Homo sapiens: one gene and its partners. The protein of the gene in region 3 purifies or fractionates together with the protein of the main gene of each other region. This does not show direct contact. Each region holds a gene or a part of one and is shown on either strand. Other genes may lie near its edges.

Region 1 (3,819 bases), on a different chromosome or scaffold from region 3:
AACAGAAACATCTGTCTTAACTTTATACAGTTGGAAAAATATCTTAAACTAATAAACAAATGAGGCAGAGGTGAGCCTACCTAGTTGTGGAATAGTCAGTTAATGAGATTGAGATGAGTTAAGCATCCCAATATCTAATGCAAAATGTGGAAATATGGATGATGATTTATGTTCTTTGATTATGTTCTAATATGATGTTTGATATGACAGGTTGTTCCAATAAATCATTTCAGCAATAAATATTTTCAAAAGACAATAGACCTTATTTATCTATTAATTCATAAACATTGGGTACATTCTACATGCACGGCATAAGAACAGAGAGAAATACAATAAATGTGACAGTATTTTCAAATATTTTGTTTCTGAGACATTTTGATAAGCAAATATCATACTAGAAGGGTTCTTCTGAGAATTATTACATCCTATCCTAACCTGTGAATATGGAACTTGATTATTTTCCCATGATGACTTGATGGAAACCACTCGCCAACCAACAACAACAAAAAGGAGAGCTCATTTACAACAATGCAGTCATTTATTTATTGAGTATGTGCACATTATGGTATTATTACTATACTGATTATATTTATCATGTGACTTCTAATTAGAAAATGTATCCAAAAGCAAAACAGCAGATATACAAAATTAAAGAGACAGAAGATAGACATTAACAGATAAGGCAACTTATACATTGAGAATCCAAATCCAATACATTTAAACATTTGGGAAATGAGGGGGACAAATGGAAGCCAGATCAAATTTGTGTAAAACTATTCAGTATGTTTCCCTTGCTTCATGTCTGAGAAGGCTCTCCCTTCAATGGGGATGACAAACTCCAAATGCCACACAAATGTTAACAGAATACTAGATTCACACTGGAACGGGGGTAAAGAAGAAATTATTTTCTATAAAAGGGCTCCTAATGTAGTACTGCTTGAAAATGGTACATTTTTGTTGTAGATTATTTTAAACATAATGCTATAGTAATATTTTGAAGATTTGAGCTGTTATTTCCATTTGTTTTTACACTGTGACTAAATGATTAGGTTTTAGTTTTAGACTCTAAACGGAACCTGAATTAATAGGAAATAAACACGGTACTATAGTTGTCCTATGGTGCCCCTATGGGTGATGGGTTCCAAGAACCCCCTAGGATACTAAAGTCCATGATGTTCAAGTCCCTTATAGAAAATGGTGTAGTATTTGCATATAACCTATGCACATCCTACCATACACTTTAAATCATCTCTAGATTACCTATAATAGCTAATACAATGTAAATGCTTTGTAAATAGTTGTTATACTATATTGTTTAATGACAAAAAAAAGTTTGTACATGTTCAGCAAAGGCGCAACCATCCATTTTTTTCCCCAAATATTTTTGACCCACAGTGGGCTGAATCACAGATGCGAAGCCTATGGACATGGAGGGCCAACTGGACAAGCATAAGCAGGGGATACTTTTTAGGTTGCTACTTCAGCAGGCAACATTCAGACCATGGAAGTCTAGAGAAAGATTATAAATCTGAACTTACCGCTAAAAATTTTAAAATGGGAAATAAATCCAAGGAGTTTTTAGTCATGCATTATGATTTTAATCTATGTTATGCCAAGTACAGCATTCCAAAATATACATCTAGAGACTAAAAGTAAATGCTCTATAGTGAAGAAGTAATAATTAAAAAATGCTACTAATATAGAAAATTTATAATCAGAAAAATAAATATTCAGGGAGCTCACCAGAAGAATAAAGTGCTCTGCCAGTTATTAAAGGATTACTGCTGGTGAATTAAATATGGCATTCCCCAAGGGAAACAGAGAGATTCTTCTGGATTATGTTCAATATTTATTTCACAGGATTAACTGTTTTAGGAACAGATATAAAGCTTCGCCACGGAAGAGATGGACAAAGCACAAAGACAACATGATACCTTAGGAAGCAACACTACCCTTTCAGGCATAAAATTTGGAGAAATGCAACATTATGCTTCATGAATAATATGTAGAAAGAAGGTCTGATGAAAATGACATCCTTAATGTAAGATAACTTTATAAGAAATCTGGGTCAAATAAAATTCTTTGAAGAAAACATCCAAATGTCATTGACTTATCAAATACTATCTTGGCATATAACCTATGAAGGCAAAACTAAACAAACAAACAAAAAGCTCACACCAAACAAAACCATCAACTTATTTTGTATTCTATAACATACAAGACTGTAAAGATGTGACAGTGTACATTATATGACAATGCACATTAGCCAGCAAGTCTTTTATAGGTGGTTTCAGCAGCAACGATAAATAATGCAGAATTCAGCTCCAGCACTTTATTTCAAAAGAAATTTCCTGCCTCCCTCCAAGATGCAGGGTGAGGAGGTAGCTTGGGGTTGCTATTGGAGAAGTATTCAGTTTGCTACTTTGTGTCACCCCTTGCCATTCTTTTATCCCCAGTTAATTATTATCTGCATATAATATAAATCTGCTAGACCATAAATTAACAGCTTTCAGGACAGATGCCTTGAAAGTTCTTAGGGAGGTTAAACAAATATTGTAGCCTAAAACCTCCTCTATAACAAACATGCACACAATGGAAGTGATGTCGTAAGTGAGTGATGGGGCAGGAAGGACCTAGGGCTCTGTCTCGACTATAAAATCACCTTGCCCCAAACAAATTTAAATTATAACTTAGGAGGTTCATGGACTTTCATCCATTCTGGAAACAAAGAGAAAAACCAAATCAAATACCAGAATCTGTTTTCTCACTGGGCAAATAGCAACAGGATCCACAGTTTTACCACAATTGTTTCCCTGTCTCCATGTGGTATCTACATAATTCTTTTCCCAAAGGAGGAAATCAAATAACAGGCCAATCTGAGTAATTAAACTCCCCTCCCAACACTACCCAACCTCTGTGAATAAAAGCTTTCCAAACTTTGTGATCACATTTGAAATTGGTTCACTTATTATTGAGAGAAAACCACAAAAAGTCTCAATTTCATCACATCCTCAAACCAATCTTTTAATTTTTAAATGCAGAAGAAGAAACAAAACGAAACAAAAAGATCATTCTGCAAAGAGACCTCTCAACTCTTCATCAGCCAGTGGCATAACTCAGAAACTGATTTAACTAATTTATTATTTGAGAAAAGGGGATTGAAAAACAATTGGGGGGTATAATCTTCTGATTCACAATTCCCAGCCACATTCTTTTCTATTTATTCTCTCTCTCTCTTTTTTTTTTTTTTTTTTTTTTTTTAAGAGCCGGAGTCTTGCTCTGTCACCAGGCTGGAGTGCAGTGGTGTGATCTCAGCTCACTGCAACTTCCGTCTCCTGGGTTCAAGAATTTTCCTGCCTCAGCCTCCCAAGTACATGGGACTACAGGCACGCCCCACCATGCCCAGCTCATTTTTGTATTTTTAGTAGAGACAGGGTTTCACCATGTTGGCCAGGATGATCTTGATCTCTTGACCTCATGATCCGCCCGTCTTGGCCTCCCAAAGTGCTGGGATCACAGGCGTGAGCCACCACACCTGGCCCTCTATTTATTCTCTTTAAAGAGAGAGAAAACTATGAGAGGCCAAAATTATTTAATTAAATCTTTACCTTAGCACAAGGGAAAAAAATGGAATTTGCCTAATATAGGTGATGAAGCATACACAATGAATAGAAACAATCACATTTTAGTAAAAGGCAAAAATTTGAGACTTATAAGCTATATGGTAGCTTATTTTTGGGTGGGGAAGAAATGAGAAAAGAATATAACATCTCTTACTGGCATGACACATTTTGATAAAAAATCTTATTGTCCTTTCCT
Region 2 (7,037 bases), on a different chromosome or scaffold from region 3:
TGATTCTCCTGCCTCAGCCTCCCAAGTAGCTGGGATTACAGGCACACGCTACCATGCCTGGCTAATTTTTGTATTTTTAGTAGAGACAGGGTTTCACCACGTTGGCCAGGCTGATCTGAAACTCCTGACCTCAAGTGATCCACCTGCTTCAGCCTCCCAAAATGGTGGGCTTACAGGCATGAGCCACTATGCCTGGCCCTGACCTTTTGTTATGTATATGTTGACTAAGACATAAATCTGAATTCTGTGTATGACATCAAATACGAAAGTAAATTATTTACTTTATAAGCGTAGCCAGCCACACAGAATCTGCATCTCAGTACCCATGTGTTCTCTATGATGGTATTCAATTTTTCTTCCTAGTCAAAAGTGGAGGCGCTATGTAAAGAGACAATCAGCCTACTCTTTGACAGGGAAATAAAGTGATTCTTTTTTTCCTTTTTTAAATTGTCTGTGATAGAAATTGGATATTGAGAACTTAAGTTTTTAATCTTTGTCCTTTTTTATCAGGTTTCTGTTGCAGCAGACGGTGCCCAGAAAGAGGGTAAAAATAAGTCAGAAGATGCAAAGTCTGTTCATTTTGAATCCAGCACCTCAGAGTCCTCAGTGCTATCAAGTAGTAGTCCAGAGAGTACCTTGGTGAAACCAGAGCCGAATGGCATAACCATCCCTGGTATCTCTTCAGATGTGCCAGAGAGTGCCCACAAAACTACTGCCTCAGAGGCAAAGTCAGACACTGGGCAGCCTACCAAGGTTGGACGTTTTCAGGTGACAACTACAGCAAACAAAGTGGGTCGTTTCTCTGTATCAAAAACTGAGGACAAGATCACTGACACAAAGAAAGAAGGACCAGTGGCATCTCCTCCTTTTATGGATTTGGAACAAGCTGTTCTTCCTGCTGTGATACCAAAGAAAGAGAAGCCTGAACTGTCAGAGCCTTCACATCTAAATGGGCCGTCTTCTGACCCGGAGGCCGCTTTTTTAAGTAGGGATGTGGATGATGGTTCCGGTAGTCCACACTCGCCCCATCAGCTGAGCTCAAAGAGCCTTCCTAGCCAGAATCTAAGTCAAAGCCTTAGTAATTCATTTAACTCCTCTTACATGAGTAGCGACAATGAGTCAGATATCGAAGATGAAGACTTAAAGTTAGAGCTGCGACGACTACGAGATAAGTAAGTATATTTTCTCTTGTGAAAGAATGTCAGATAAGGTTTTCAGACCTAGATCCCAGGGCCAAGATTAATAATATTTTTCGCCACAATATGCTAATGTCTCATTTCTTTTAAAGAGACAGTGCCACAGAAGCCCCACCCCATACCTCCCCACCACACACACACACACACACACACACACACACACACACACACACACACACACACGATTCCCAACCACTGACTCACAGGCACAGGCAGCTTCTCTTGCACTCATACAGACCCATAGCATTTCTAGTTCTAGAACTTCTTCATTGTTACTATATTATTACTGTATTATTGTTACTGTATTGTATTATTATTTTTATTAATAGCATATTGTATCACTATTAACTGCTCTTTATTTATTAGTCCACTAAATGAATCTGGCACTGGGATGTATGATTATTTGGCACGTTTTGTTTGGCAGATTGGGTCAGAGTAGCAAATTCAGCTATTGTGTGCGTGGCCTCAAAAGTCAGGAAATGTTTTTCTCCTAAAACATTATCAACCATTTGTTGTTGGCTAGGAGCTTGTTGGAACATGGCTTGGGTAATGCAGGCCAGCAAGGTGAGTTGACAAACTAGAATCTCGTGGTAGTACATTTGGGGAAAAGGTTCATTAGTAACTACTACATACTTGAAAGCAGGTTTAGGAATATGCTGTTAATTCTTGTCTGAATGAAGAGGATTATGGTATTTTGAATTATGTTTGGTTATCTTTCACAGACATCTCAAAGAGATTCAGGACCTGCAGAGTCGCCAGAAGCATGAAATTGAATCTTTGTATACCAAACTGGGCAAGGTGCCCCCTGCTGTTATTATTCCCCCAGCTGCTCCCCTTTCAGGGAGAAGACGACGACCCACTAAAAGCAAAGGCAGCAAATCTAGTCGAAGCAGTTCCTTGGGGAATAAAAGCCCCCAGCTTTCAGGTAAAAAGCCCTGGACTAGGTCAGCCACAGCTGTCCTATCTTTTGTTTCTGTCTCCAGCTGTATGTGACCTGCTGAACATTTGTTGTTTTTGTTAAATTTCAAAGGAATTTGGCTCTCCTGATATTTTTGCTTCCTTGACTGCTGTACTTACATTTATTGTACCTCTTTTTGAGTCTATAGAAGTAGACTTAGTGAATACAATGGCTTATTCCATTGTAATCCATATTGCTATCTACTGGTAATCTTTATTTATAGTTATTCTTAAGGATAGACATTTAGCTTTGCCTGTTAACTCGTATAACTCACATTTAACCAAACTCTTGGGCAGTTGGAAGAAAATACATTATTCTCTGTTTAGTAAAACTTGGGTAGATTCTTTGTTTTAATGGATGACTTAGTCATAATTGCAACTTAGATGAATGTAATCGTCATATAGATATTTGTGTGTATGTCTAAGTGGTAACTTCTTGATTAAGGTTTTTATTTCATTTATATTGGGTTAAAGAACTTGCTAGTCATTGGTTAGGCACGGTGGCTCACGCCTGTAATCCCAGAACTTTGGGAGGCTGAGGCAGGCAGATCACGAGGTCAGGAGATCAAGACCATCCTGACTAACACGGTGAAACCCTGTCTCTACTAAAAATAAAAAAATTAGGTGGGCATGGTGGCAGGCGCCTATAGTCCCAGCTACTCAGGAGGCTGAGGCAGGAGAATGGCATGAGCCCGGGAGGCGGAGCTTGCAGTGAGCTGAGATTGCACCACTGCACTCCAGCCTCGGTGACAGAGCAAGACTCTGTCTCAAAAAAAAAAAAAAAAAGAAGAACTTGCTAGTCATTAAAATCAAAGAAATAGTTAAGTGATACTCTTTTGTAATGTAGTATATATATATATTTATTTATTTTAAGAGACAGGGCCTCACTCTGTTGCCCAGACTGGAGTGCAGTGGTGTGATCATAGCACACAACACAACAGCCTCAAACTCCTAGGCTCAGGTGGTCCTCCTACCTTAGCTTCCTGGGTAGCTGGGATTACAGGCACACACTACCATGCCCTGCTAACTTTGAATTTTTTTTTTGAGACAGAATCCCGCTCTGTTGCCCAGGCTGGAGTGCAGTGGCACGATCTCGGCTCACTGCATTCTCCGCCTCCCAGTTTCAAGTGATCCTCCTGCCTCAGCCCCGCATAGTAGCTGGGATTACAGGCACATGTCACCATGCCTGGCTAATTTTTGTATTTTTAGTAGAGATGGGGTTTCACTATGTTGGCCAGGCTGGTCTCAAACTCCTGGCTCAGGTGATCCACCCACCTTGGCCTCCCAAAGTGCTGGGATTACAGGCGTGAGCCACCGTGCCCGGCCCTGGACTATATTTTAATTGGGATAGATAGAGAGTTTCTAATCCTTTGGTGAAATTATGGTAGTGTTAACACAATTAGTTGAAAAGTAAAAGAAGGTTAAAATATGTTAAAAAGCAGTTGCAAACTTCTTAGCAGTTCCATTCTCTGGAAAGGTTCACAGATATCCAAATGTAGCACATTAGGGCCAGTTCATGCAGCCCATTAGTAGAGATGTGATTGTAAGAGAAATCAGCTAATTTCTGATCTGATCCCAATCAGATCTTTTTTGTTTTTGTTTTTGTTTTTTTGAGGCAGAGTCGGCAGTGGCTCAACCTCCAACTCCCAGGTTCAAGCAATTCTCATGCCCCAGCCTCCCAAGTAGCTGGGATTACAAGCATGTAATCCCAAACCAAATGTATAAGAACACCTGGCTAATTTTTGTATTTTTGTATTTTTAGTTGCACTATGTTGGCCAGACTGGTCTGAAACTTCTGGCCTCAGGTGATCCGCCCGCCTCAGCCTCCCAAAGTGCGGATTACAGGCATGAGCCACTATGCCCAGCTATGATCCTAATCAAATTCTAATCCTAATTTTGACATACTTTTTGAGTGGACTTGAATTCAACTGGGAACCGGGGAGCAGAGAGTCAATTTTAGGACAACCGACCTATTGAAAGCAACCTACCAAAAATAATTTTAAACACCCATTGCTCTGTAGTGACCTCCATCATTTTTGAACACCTCTTTTGTATTTGCTCTGATGCACGTTTATAGGAAAGTCTAAGCAGAGACTGCCTAGCAAACCTTTTTGTATAATGATTCAACACATTTTCTAATAGGGTAAAAAAAAAAGCAATCATGGAATTGCAGAATGGAATCTGGGTATCCACTAGGTACTCTGGTCTTCTTACGCTGCTCAGACATGTGGCCCATCTAGGTTTTCTAAAGCTAAAAAGCTCTGGAATAGTACATATGGCCCTATTACCTATGGATTCTTTTCTTTTTTTTTTTTTTTTTTTGAGTGCAGTGGCATGATGTCGGCTCACTGCAGCCTCTGCCTCTGGGTTCAAGCAATTCTCCTTCCTCAGCCTCCTGAGTAGCTGGGATTATAGGCACCCTCCACCACGCCTGGCTAATTTTTATATTTTTAGTAGAGACAGGGTTTCATCATGTTGGCCAGGCTGGTCTCGAACTCCTGACCTCAGGTGATCCGCCCACCTTGGCCTCCCAAAGTGCTGGGATATTATAGGCGTGAGCCACAACACCCAGCCTATCTATTGAGTCTTAGTGTCATTCCTCACTTCTCCCGTTAGTGAGGACTTTGTTCTTCTCATCAGTTTGTAGCTTTTGACCCATCATTCATCACTCAGTGGAACAAACCAAATGTATAAGAACAGTGCCTGATGAGTGCATGGGAAGAGCTGGACATGTTTCCTCATGCCACTTTATCTTTTGGCAGGTAACCTGTCTGGTCAGAGTGCAGCTTCAGTCTTGCACCCCCAGCAGACCCTCCACCCTCCTGGCAACATCCCAGAGTCCGGGCAGAATCAGCTGTTACAGCCCCTTAAGCCATCTCCCTCCAGTGACAACCTCTATTCAGCCTTCACCAGTGATGGTGCCATTTCAGTACCAAGCCTTTCTGCTCCAGGTCAAGGTAATAAAGCAACCATCATCGTCCAAAAACAATAAAATGGAGATGTTGCCATACCTGGGACAAAAGCCTGTTAAGGCGGGTTGGGAGACTAGCTGACCAGAACACAGCCTGTGTGTTGTACACTGAAGAATCTGGGTGAAAAGGGAAGTGGAGTGATAATGAGAATCGGTGGGCTCACTGCTCCCATTAGGTGAAATTACTTTTTTTCAAGGAATTACAGTGAAAAGTTACATCTGTGTGGCCTATATGACTTGCTCATTTGGGATTTGGAACTTAGGCTTTAATATTAGGCTGAGATTTCCTGGATGAAATTCTAAGGTGTTTTAGCAGTTTCTGAAGCTAATACATTTTCTTAGCCATTGTAGAATTTTGTTACTTTTAAGTATGGGAGTGGCATACTAAAATGAATAACCTTACAATTCAGTTTTTTATCCATAATCTACTTTCCAAATATAGCTCTGTTTATTAGTGATTGCTGAAAAAATTCCCACAGAGGAAAGAGCTTTTAGTCATATTAGAACAAGAATTGAAAAGACTTGGGCATCTGGGTGAGAAGAATGAAAAAAATATAGGTACTGGCTTATGTGCCTTTGCCACAGTTTCACAGAAATTAGAGATCAGTCTCTTCACAGGAAGAATGCACTTGATTGGTAAGGAGGGCAAACTAGCTAGCATTATTCGAACTAAGAAAAGCTTCCGCATTTTGCAGATGGGTAGAATTAAGACCTAATATTTCATCTCTTACATATCTGACCTTCCCCCCAGAAGCTTGTTCTTCTGTGTGCCATCTTAGTGCATTTCACCACTCCAGCCTCAAGTTTCTAACATCTTGTAGTTGTGTTCTGTCTCTTCTCCTCTCTCTGTTCTACCCTGTTTTTCCCCTCTCACAGGCTGTGCGAAGTTTAACTGTGCATCTGAACAGGTGACATTCAAACCTGGTGGCAGGAGGACCCGATTTCTGAGTACGCCCTGCTTGGCTCTTTGTGTGTAACACCTTTACTCCTTCCTTGTCCTTGTGTTTCTGCTGCTTGGATCTGATGTTTCACGCAGTCCATTTTCATTTGTCTCTTTTTGTATATCATCTACTCAGTGGCTTGGCTGAATTACTGTTACCCTCAGAAGTTTGGGCCCCCACATTAATTATGATAAAAAATGTCAAAATAACAAGTTATCTACAAATTTCAATGTAACTTTCTGGTAGAAGTGCTTCTTCATGGATCTGTGACAGAGAGTGGATATGGTATCTAGGCAATAGATTGCTGGGTCATTTAGAATAATGAAGACTGAACTCCACAGTCGTAGTCAGTGCTGTCTGTCTGCCCTAGCATTAGAAATGAGAGAAATCAGCCAGACACGGTGGCGTACACCTGTAATCCCAGCACTTTGGGAGGCCGAGGCGGGAAGATTGCTTGAGGCCAGGAGCTCGAGACCAACCCTGGGCAACATGGTGATACCCCATCTCTAAAAAAAAAAAAAAAGTTAGCCTGGCATGGTGGTGTGCACCTATAGTCCCAGCTGCCCAGGAGGCTGAGGCGGGAGGATTACCACCTTAAGACCAGGAGGTTGAGACTGCAGTGAGCCATGATTGCACCACTGCACCCCAGCCTGAGCGACAGAGTGAGACTCTATCTCAAAAAAAAGAAACGAAATGAAGAAAGCATTTTGACCAATGATGCTCTTAGATCCTGGCAGCAGGTAAAAATTATGTACCATTTTTTTCCATTCTTTGTCAGAGTAGATTGAAATCTTATTTTTCTTCTCTATTAAGCCTAAGCAGCTACCAGTTGAAAAGATGCTAGGATCTCTTCATTGGATCATTCCACCACTACTGTCCTCTAACCCCATAAAATCAAAAGCGGTTTTTAGTTTGGTTATTCTGATAAAGCACTTAGTCTAATAAAGATCAAAGCCCAGCATCTGCAAGTGA
Region 3 (7,037 bases):
TTGTTTTATTACTACGTTTTGTAATATATTTTGATATCCAGTAGTGTATCTTCTCCTTTATTATTCTTCATTCTATTTTATTTATTTATTTATTTATTTATTTATTTATTTTTGAGACAGAGTCTCTATCATGCAGGCTGGCGTGCAGTGGCATGATCTCGGCTCACTACAACCTCCGCCTCCCAGGTTCAAGCGATTCTTCTGCCTCAGTCTTCCCAGTAACTGGGACTACAGGTGCGGGTCACCACGCCCAGCTAATTTTTGTATTTTTAGTAGAGATGGGGTTTCACCATATTGGCCAGGCTGGTCTCAAACTCCTGACCTCATGATCCACCTGCCTTGGCCTCCCAAAGTGCTGGGATTACAGGCGTGAGCCACCGCACCTGGCCTATTTTTTTAAAGATGAGATCTTGCTCTGTTTTCCAGGCTAGCTTGCAGTGGCATGGATCATAGCTCACTGCAGCTTTGAACTCAAGCGATCCTTTCACTTCAGTCTCCCAGGTTGCTGGGATTACAGGCATGAGCCACCATACCTACCTCATTGTTCATCATTTTAAAAATTGACTTGGCTATTCTTAAAGATTTTTACTTTATGATGAATTAGATTCACCCTGTCTAGTTTCTAGAAATCTGTTGGGAATCAGTTTAGATTGCATTGGATTTACAAATGGAATTATGAATAGAATTGACATCTTTTTAATTTTGCATTTAATTTTCCCATCCAGTAACTTTGTATATCTATTTATTCAGGTCCTCATTTACATGAAATAGAAGTTTAATGTTTTTCTTCATAATACTCCTATACATGTGTTGAAGCCTACCAACCAAAATGTACCAGGAACACATTTGTAGTCAAAAAAAGGTTAAGTTTATTTAGCTTGCTGCATAAAGAGAAAATATACCCCAGAAGAACTGCGGGAGCATCTCATCAAGGGGAATTAGAAGGGCTTCTCATAGGGTTTAGGCTTTAAGCAGATGATTCAAAGGAGGATTAAGGAAGCCAGAGGCCAGCAGGACATAGTGGCTCATGCCTGTAATCCCAGCACTTTGGAAGGCTGAAGTGGGAGGATCACTTGAGGCCAGGAGTTCAAGACTAGCCTGTACAACATAGCAAGATCCCATCTTTACAAAAATAAAAATAAAAATTTAGCCAGATGCAGTGGTGCACACCTGTAGTTCCAGCTACTTAGGAGGCTGAAGTGGGAGGATAACTTGGGCTCAGGAGGTGAAGGCTGCAGTGAACCATGATCATGCCACTGCACTCTAGCCCAGCAGACAGAGTGAGACCCTGTCTCTTTAAAAAACAAAAAGAAGCAGAGGCCAGTTTTGGATCATCATCCCTCTGGAAATAATATGCTTCTAAAATGCTCAGTTTTGAGTACGTGATACTCTTATTGTCTCCTCAGTTAAAAATGATTTATTAAAATGAAGTCTTGCTCCTGTAGCAGTAGTGAATATTACATGCTTTATAGTGAGTGATTTATTAATCAGTTTTATCTGGTAACAGTGATAATTTCTATGTATACAAGTGGAAATTGGATCGCCTTTTGATGTTGTATTTTTCTATATGTATCAGCCTAGTGGTTGCATTAAAATTCATTTGTATTTCTTCCCCCTGTAGCAAAATCCTTTATATGATACAGAAAGATGCAAGGTATTCCAGTGTGATCTGACTAAAGATGATCTTCTGGATCATGTACCGCCAGAGTCTGTGGATGTTGTTATGTTGATATTTGTGCTGTCAGCTGTTCATCCTGATAAGATGCACCTTGTCTTACAAAACATTTACAAGGTTAGTGATTTGGGGCCTGCACTTGAGGGTTGGACAGTCTGGATTCTTTTACTTACCTTCCCTCATGAGGCTCATGTACTGTCTAGATTCACATAGTCTCTCCATTCTCACTAGGTAGGCTGTGTAGTGAGTGTATAGAAAGGGGTCCTCTGGCATAAAACATCCACCCTAAATTCTGATTTGTGCAGTGCCATGGCTGCTCTTCAGAGCTTCGCCAGCCCTGGGACAAGGATGATTTTGCAGTTACCTGGGATCCATGGAGTCCTGCTATAAGGTGAGAGGAGTTATGGTTTAGTGGTCAAGAGTACACAGTTTGGCCAGGTGTGGTGTTTCATGCCTGTAATCCCAACACTTTGGGATGCCAAGGCAGGTGAATCACTTGAGGTCAGGAGTTTGAAACCAGCCTGGCCAACATAGCAAGACCTTGTCTAAAAAAAGCTAATGTATGATCATTGGCAGATCACTTAACCCTGTTGAGTATTGGTTTCCGTGTCTCATGTGAGAATAATAATCACATTCCTTTGTCCCACAGTTGGGTGAAGATACAATGAGAAAATGTATGGTTAAGCAGTCAAATGCTAGGCATGTATCAGTCATTAGCACCGTGATTGAGCTATACATTGTGGCACAATGAAATGAGAGCTGAGGCTCAGAATGAGGAAAACCAACCTGAATCAGTAAAGAGCCAAAACGACATTCTGGTTTTTTGTTTGTTTGTTTGTTTGTTTTTTTAAGAGACAGTTGAATACAGTTTGAGTACTAGGAGATGGTGAATAAAATGTTGCAAGAAAGTGCTTCAATGAGGATAACACTTTCATTTATTGTCTCTAACACTTATTTATTTATTTTTGAGACAGGGTCTTGCTGTGTCACTCAGGCTGGAGTGCAGTGGCATGGACGTGGCTCACTGCAGCCTCAACTTCCTGGGCTCAAGCAGTTCTCCCACCTCAGCCTCTGAAGTAGTTGGGACTACAGGACGCACTACCAGATCCAGCTAATTTTTAATTTTTGTGTAGAGATGGGGTCTCACTATATTGCCCAGGTTGGTCTCTAACATTTTAATCCTGTGACACTGGACATTCCAGGGTGCTCTTGGAGGTACTCAAGAATTGTCTTCAGGGACGAGCGAGGTGGCTCACGCCTGTAATCCCAACTTTGGGAGACTGAGGTGGGCAAATTACTTGAGGTCAGGAGTTCGAGACTAGCCTGGCCAACATGGTGAAACCTCATCTCTACTAAAATACAAAAATTAGCCGGGCATGGTGGCGGGCACCTATAATCCCAGCTACTCGGGAGGCTGAGACACGAGAATCACTTGAACGTGGGAGACGGAGGTTGCAGTGAGCTGAGATTATGCCACTGCACTCCAGCCTGGGCGACAGAGCAAGACTCCATCTCAAAAAAAAAAAAAAAAGAAGTGTCTTAGTGTTATGGAGCCCTGCCTGGTCTTACTATCTTTTTAAGTAGTAGGCCATTTTGGTTCCGTATTATGGGCATTTCAGTCTGTCCCCTTAGTAACTATCACAAATTTATTTTAAGTCCTAACTTAATCAGGTTTTATTTTGACAGGGTTCTCCAAAGTCATGTTCAGCCTGCTTTTGTTTCATAGGTATTAAAACCAGGCAAAAGTGTCTTGTTTCGTGACTACGGACTGTATGATCATGCCATGCTTAGGTTTAAAGCCAGCAGCAAACTTGGAGAAAACTTTTATGTTAGACAAGATGGGACCAGATCATATTTTTTTACTGATGGTAAGATGAATGGAATCCAGTCTTTAAATGTTTTATTCTTTGTTTCTGTTTATTTGATTGCATTATCACTGCAAGGCTGCTTGGAGAAGGCTTGCGACATGTGCACGAGACCCTGAAACAAGCCCTCTACTGCACAATATTTACCCAGCACCTGGAAGGCACAGACCTGGCCCCTGCCCTTGAAGAGCTCACAAGCCTTCTCTGGTGTCAGTGACTCCCCTAATGAGCTTGGGTTAATGGACAGCCTCTGACATGCCATGTGGATTCCCTACTAGGAATTGTGCTGGAATAAGAGGGAGGGCAAGTCAGAAACTTCTTGTCCAGTTAAAAATAAAGCAAATTTGACAGTATAATGCCTTGAGATTACTTTCCCATGGCACAAAGTCAGGAAACCTTTTTCTGTAGAATTGATTGGATCTGTTTTGGGGTTTGGTTTTTTTGTTGTTTTTGAGACAGAGTCTAATTCTGTCACCCAGGCTGGAGTGCAGTGGTGTGATCTTGGCTCACTGCAGCCTCCACCTTCCAGACTCAAGTGATCCACCGAAGCCTCCTGAGTAGCTGGGACCACAGACACATGCCACCATGGCTGGCTAATTTCTTGTATTTTTGGTAGAATGGGGGTTTCACCATATTGCCCATGCTGGTCTCGAACTTCTGAGCTCAAGTGATCCATCTGTCTCAGCCTCCAAAAGTGGTGGGATTACAGGTGTTAGTCACCATGCCTGTCCTGGATCTGTTTTTAAATAAATATGCAAATTTGCTGTAAAGAGGCATTTATTTATTTTTGAGACAGAGTCTTACAGGCTGGAGTGCAGTGGCATGATCTTGGCTCACTGCAACCCCCACCACCCAGGCTCAAGTGATTCTCATGCCTCAGCCTCCCAAGTAGCAAGGATTACAAGTGTGTGCCACCACACCCAACTAATTTTTGTATTTTTAGTAGAGATGCGGTTTTGCCATGTTGGCCAGGCTGGTCTCAATCTCCTGGTCTCAAGTGATCTGCCCACTTCAGCCTCCCAAAATTCTGGGACTGCAGGTATGAGCCACCATGCCCAGCCTAAAGAGGTATTTAAAAAGTCATTTTTGATAAGAAAATGTGGAACATTATTTTGGTCTTTTAGGTGTCTTGAACATAGTCTACCTAATCATCTAGACAGGAAGATAATTAACCTCTATTTTAACAAACATTTTTCTTCTTGAAATGAAATATTCTTTTAGATACCAAAATGAATTAAAATTGAGTGATTACTATTAAAGCTGCAAAATTATTTGGGAGACTGAGATAGAAGGATCACTTGAGCTCAGGAGTTCGAGACCAGCCTGGGCAACCGTGAAACTTTGTCTCTACTAAAAATAAAAAAAAAAAAATATTAGCCAGGAGTGGTGGCATGCACTTGTGGTCCTGCTGCTTAGGAGGCTGAGGCAAGAGGATCATTTGGCCCCAGAAGATGGAGGCTGCAGTGAGCTATGATCATACCACTGCCCTCCAGCCTGGGCGACAGGGCGAGAAGCCTATCTCAAAAAAACAAAACAAAACAAAACAAAATGCAAAATTATCAAAATAGGTTAAAATTCAAAAGATGTTTTAATTCATAAAATTTAAACCAATTGTAAATATTGAGAAGATTCAGTGATATCTGCAGAGTGCTTCAGAGCACGTTCTCTGGAGCAATGCTCTTAGTACGAGTCTTTATTTTTGCTGCCTCACCATTTATTCTGTTTGTTTCATTTAATGTGTAGTGATGTATTATTTGGGTTAGATTTTCCTGGAGCTAGGTCACCACTGGGTGTTTTTCTCCACTCTGATCACAAATTTTCCTCCTTCGTGTTAGGATGAATAAGATGTTTGATGTAAACAAATTGAGCACATGCAGACCTTGTAGGAGTATAGCCAATTTTTATGTTTTTGTTCGGAGATGGGAAACAATAAGATAATTTTTAAAAAGGAATATAATCGGCCGGGCCCAGTGGCTCATGCGTGTTATCTCAGCACTTTGGGAGGCCAAGATTGGGGGATCATTTGAGGTCAGGGGTTTGAGACCAGCCTGGCCAACATGGCGAAACCCTGTCTCTACTAAAAATACAAAAAAATTAACCAGGCATGGTAGTGTGTGCCTGTAGTCCCAGCTACTTAAGAGGCTGAGGCAGGAGAATCACTTAAGCCCAGGAATCGGAGGTTGCAGTGAGCCGAGATCGTGCTCCTGATCTAGCCTGGGTGACAGAGTGACATTGTGTCTCAAAAAAAAATTTTTTTTTAATTAAAAAAAAAAAGGAATATAACCAATTTGGAATTGTTTCTTTTTACTCGGGCTTTTGTATTTGAGAATTCATAATAAGGCAAGATGCGAACACCAGGTTGTCCTTCACCTTGTTCTGATTTAATTGTTTAATTGGAGGTTTCTGTTTGGGTAGAAGAGGAGAAGGAGTGTATTAGTTCCCAAATCAAAACCTTTAAATTTTAGCATTGAGGTTTTCATTTAAAAAAATATTAAAATAGCCTCAGCCCTCTATCCCTCCTCAAGGACTGCAAAGCAAATGTAATGTTATGAAGACTGTTGAGCATTGTTGATGCTTGTCTTACAGACTTCCTGGCTCAGCTCTTTATGGACACAGGTTATGAAGAAGTGGTAAACGAGTATGTGTTTCGAGAGACGGTGAATAAAAAAGAAGGCCTGTGTGTGCCAAGAGTTTTCCTTCAGAGCAAATTTCTAAAGCCTCCTAAGAACCCATCTCCTGTGGTCCTGGGCCTGGATCCTAAGTCCTGACCTTTCATGAGGTTGGCATTTATACCTTCCCTTGAAGAGGAAAATTTAAAATCACTCTTTCGTCTGGGTGCGGTGGCTCATGCCTGTAATCCCAGCACTTCGGGAGGCCGAGGTTGGGGGATCATCTGAGGTCAGGAGTTTGAGACCAGCCTGGCCAACATGGTGAGACCCCATCTCTACTAAAAATACAAAAAAATTAGCTGGGCATAGTGGCGAGTGCCTGTAATCCCAGCTACTCAGGAGGCTGAGGCAAGAGAATCGCTTGAACCCAAGAGGCGGAGACTGCAGTGAGCCAAGATCATGCCATTGCACTCCAGCCTGGGCGACAGAGTGAGACCCTGTTTCATAAATAAATAAAATCACTCTTTTTACTTTATATATTTTTTGAGACAGGATCTTGTGGTACGCAGGCTGGAGTGCAGTGGTGTGTGATCACAGCTCATTGTAGCCTCGACCTCCCCTGGGCTCAAGCAGTCTTCCTGCCTCAGCCTCCTGAGTAGCTAGGACTACAGGTGTAAGCCACCATGCCTGGCCCTTAATTTTTTTTAATGAGCATGTACAGTAGTCCCGCTTTATCCATGGTTTCACTTACCACAATTTCAATTACCTGTTTTCAACTGCAGTCAGTTACTTTTCTTAAGATATTTTGAGGGTTATAGGCTCATGCCTATAACCCCAGCACTTTGAGAGGCCAAGGCCAGCAGATCCCTTGAGCCCAGGAGTTCAAGA

What was found. Proteins that work in one complex are often made in the same cells at the same time.
Region 1: the proteins of METTL6 (region 3) and PDLIM5 purify together in Homo sapiens (affinity purification with mass spectrometry; 3 studies listed by BioGRID and IntAct, with this or other methods). This does not show direct contact.
Region 2: the proteins of METTL6 (region 3) and WNK1 purify together in Homo sapiens (affinity purification with mass spectrometry; 3 studies listed by BioGRID and IntAct, with this or other methods). This does not show direct contact.

What each region holds. Positions count from the first base shown.
Region 1 is NC_000004.12:94,664,924-94,668,742, reverse strand, and holds the end of PDLIM5 (PDZ and LIM domain protein 5), read right to left. Parts: 3' UTR 2,719-3,819; coding exon of another isoform or gene 2,717-2,718; 3' UTR 520-2,716; downstream 1-519. UniProt on the Homo sapiens protein: May play an important role in the heart development by scaffolding PKC to the Z-disk region. May play a role in the regulation of cardiomyocyte expansion. Isoforms lacking the LIM domains may negatively modulate the scaffolding activity of isoform 1.
Region 2 is NC_000012.12:895,561-902,597, forward strand, and holds part of WNK1 (serine/threonine-protein kinase WNK1), read left to right. Parts: intron 1-510; coding exon 511-1,172; intron 1,173-1,918; coding exon 1,919-2,121; intron 2,122-4,915; coding exon 4,916-5,110; intron 5,111-7,037. UniProt on the Homo sapiens protein: Serine/threonine-protein kinase component of the WNK1-SPAK/OSR1 kinase cascade, which acts as a key regulator of blood pressure and regulatory volume increase by promoting ion influx.
Region 3 is NC_000003.12:15,410,527-15,417,563, reverse strand, and holds part of METTL6 (tRNA N(3)-cytidine methyltransferase METTL6), read left to right. Parts: intron 1-1,621; coding exon 1,622-1,792; intron 1,793-1,906; coding exon of another isoform or gene 1,907-1,930; exon of another isoform or gene 1,931-1,945; intron 1,946-1,980; coding exon of another isoform or gene 1,981-2,066; intron 2,067-2,649; coding exon of another isoform or gene 2,650-2,755; exon of another isoform or gene 2,756-3,401; coding exon 3,402-3,543; exon of another isoform or gene 3,544-3,618; coding exon of another isoform or gene 3,619-3,757; exon of another isoform or gene 3,758-3,893; intron 3,894-6,126; coding exon 6,127-6,308; 3' UTR 6,309-7,037. UniProt on the Homo sapiens protein: S-adenosyl-L-methionine-dependent methyltransferase that mediates N(3)-methylcytidine modification of residue 32 of the tRNA anticodon loop of tRNA(Ser), including tRNA(Ser)(UGA) and tRNA(Ser)(GCU).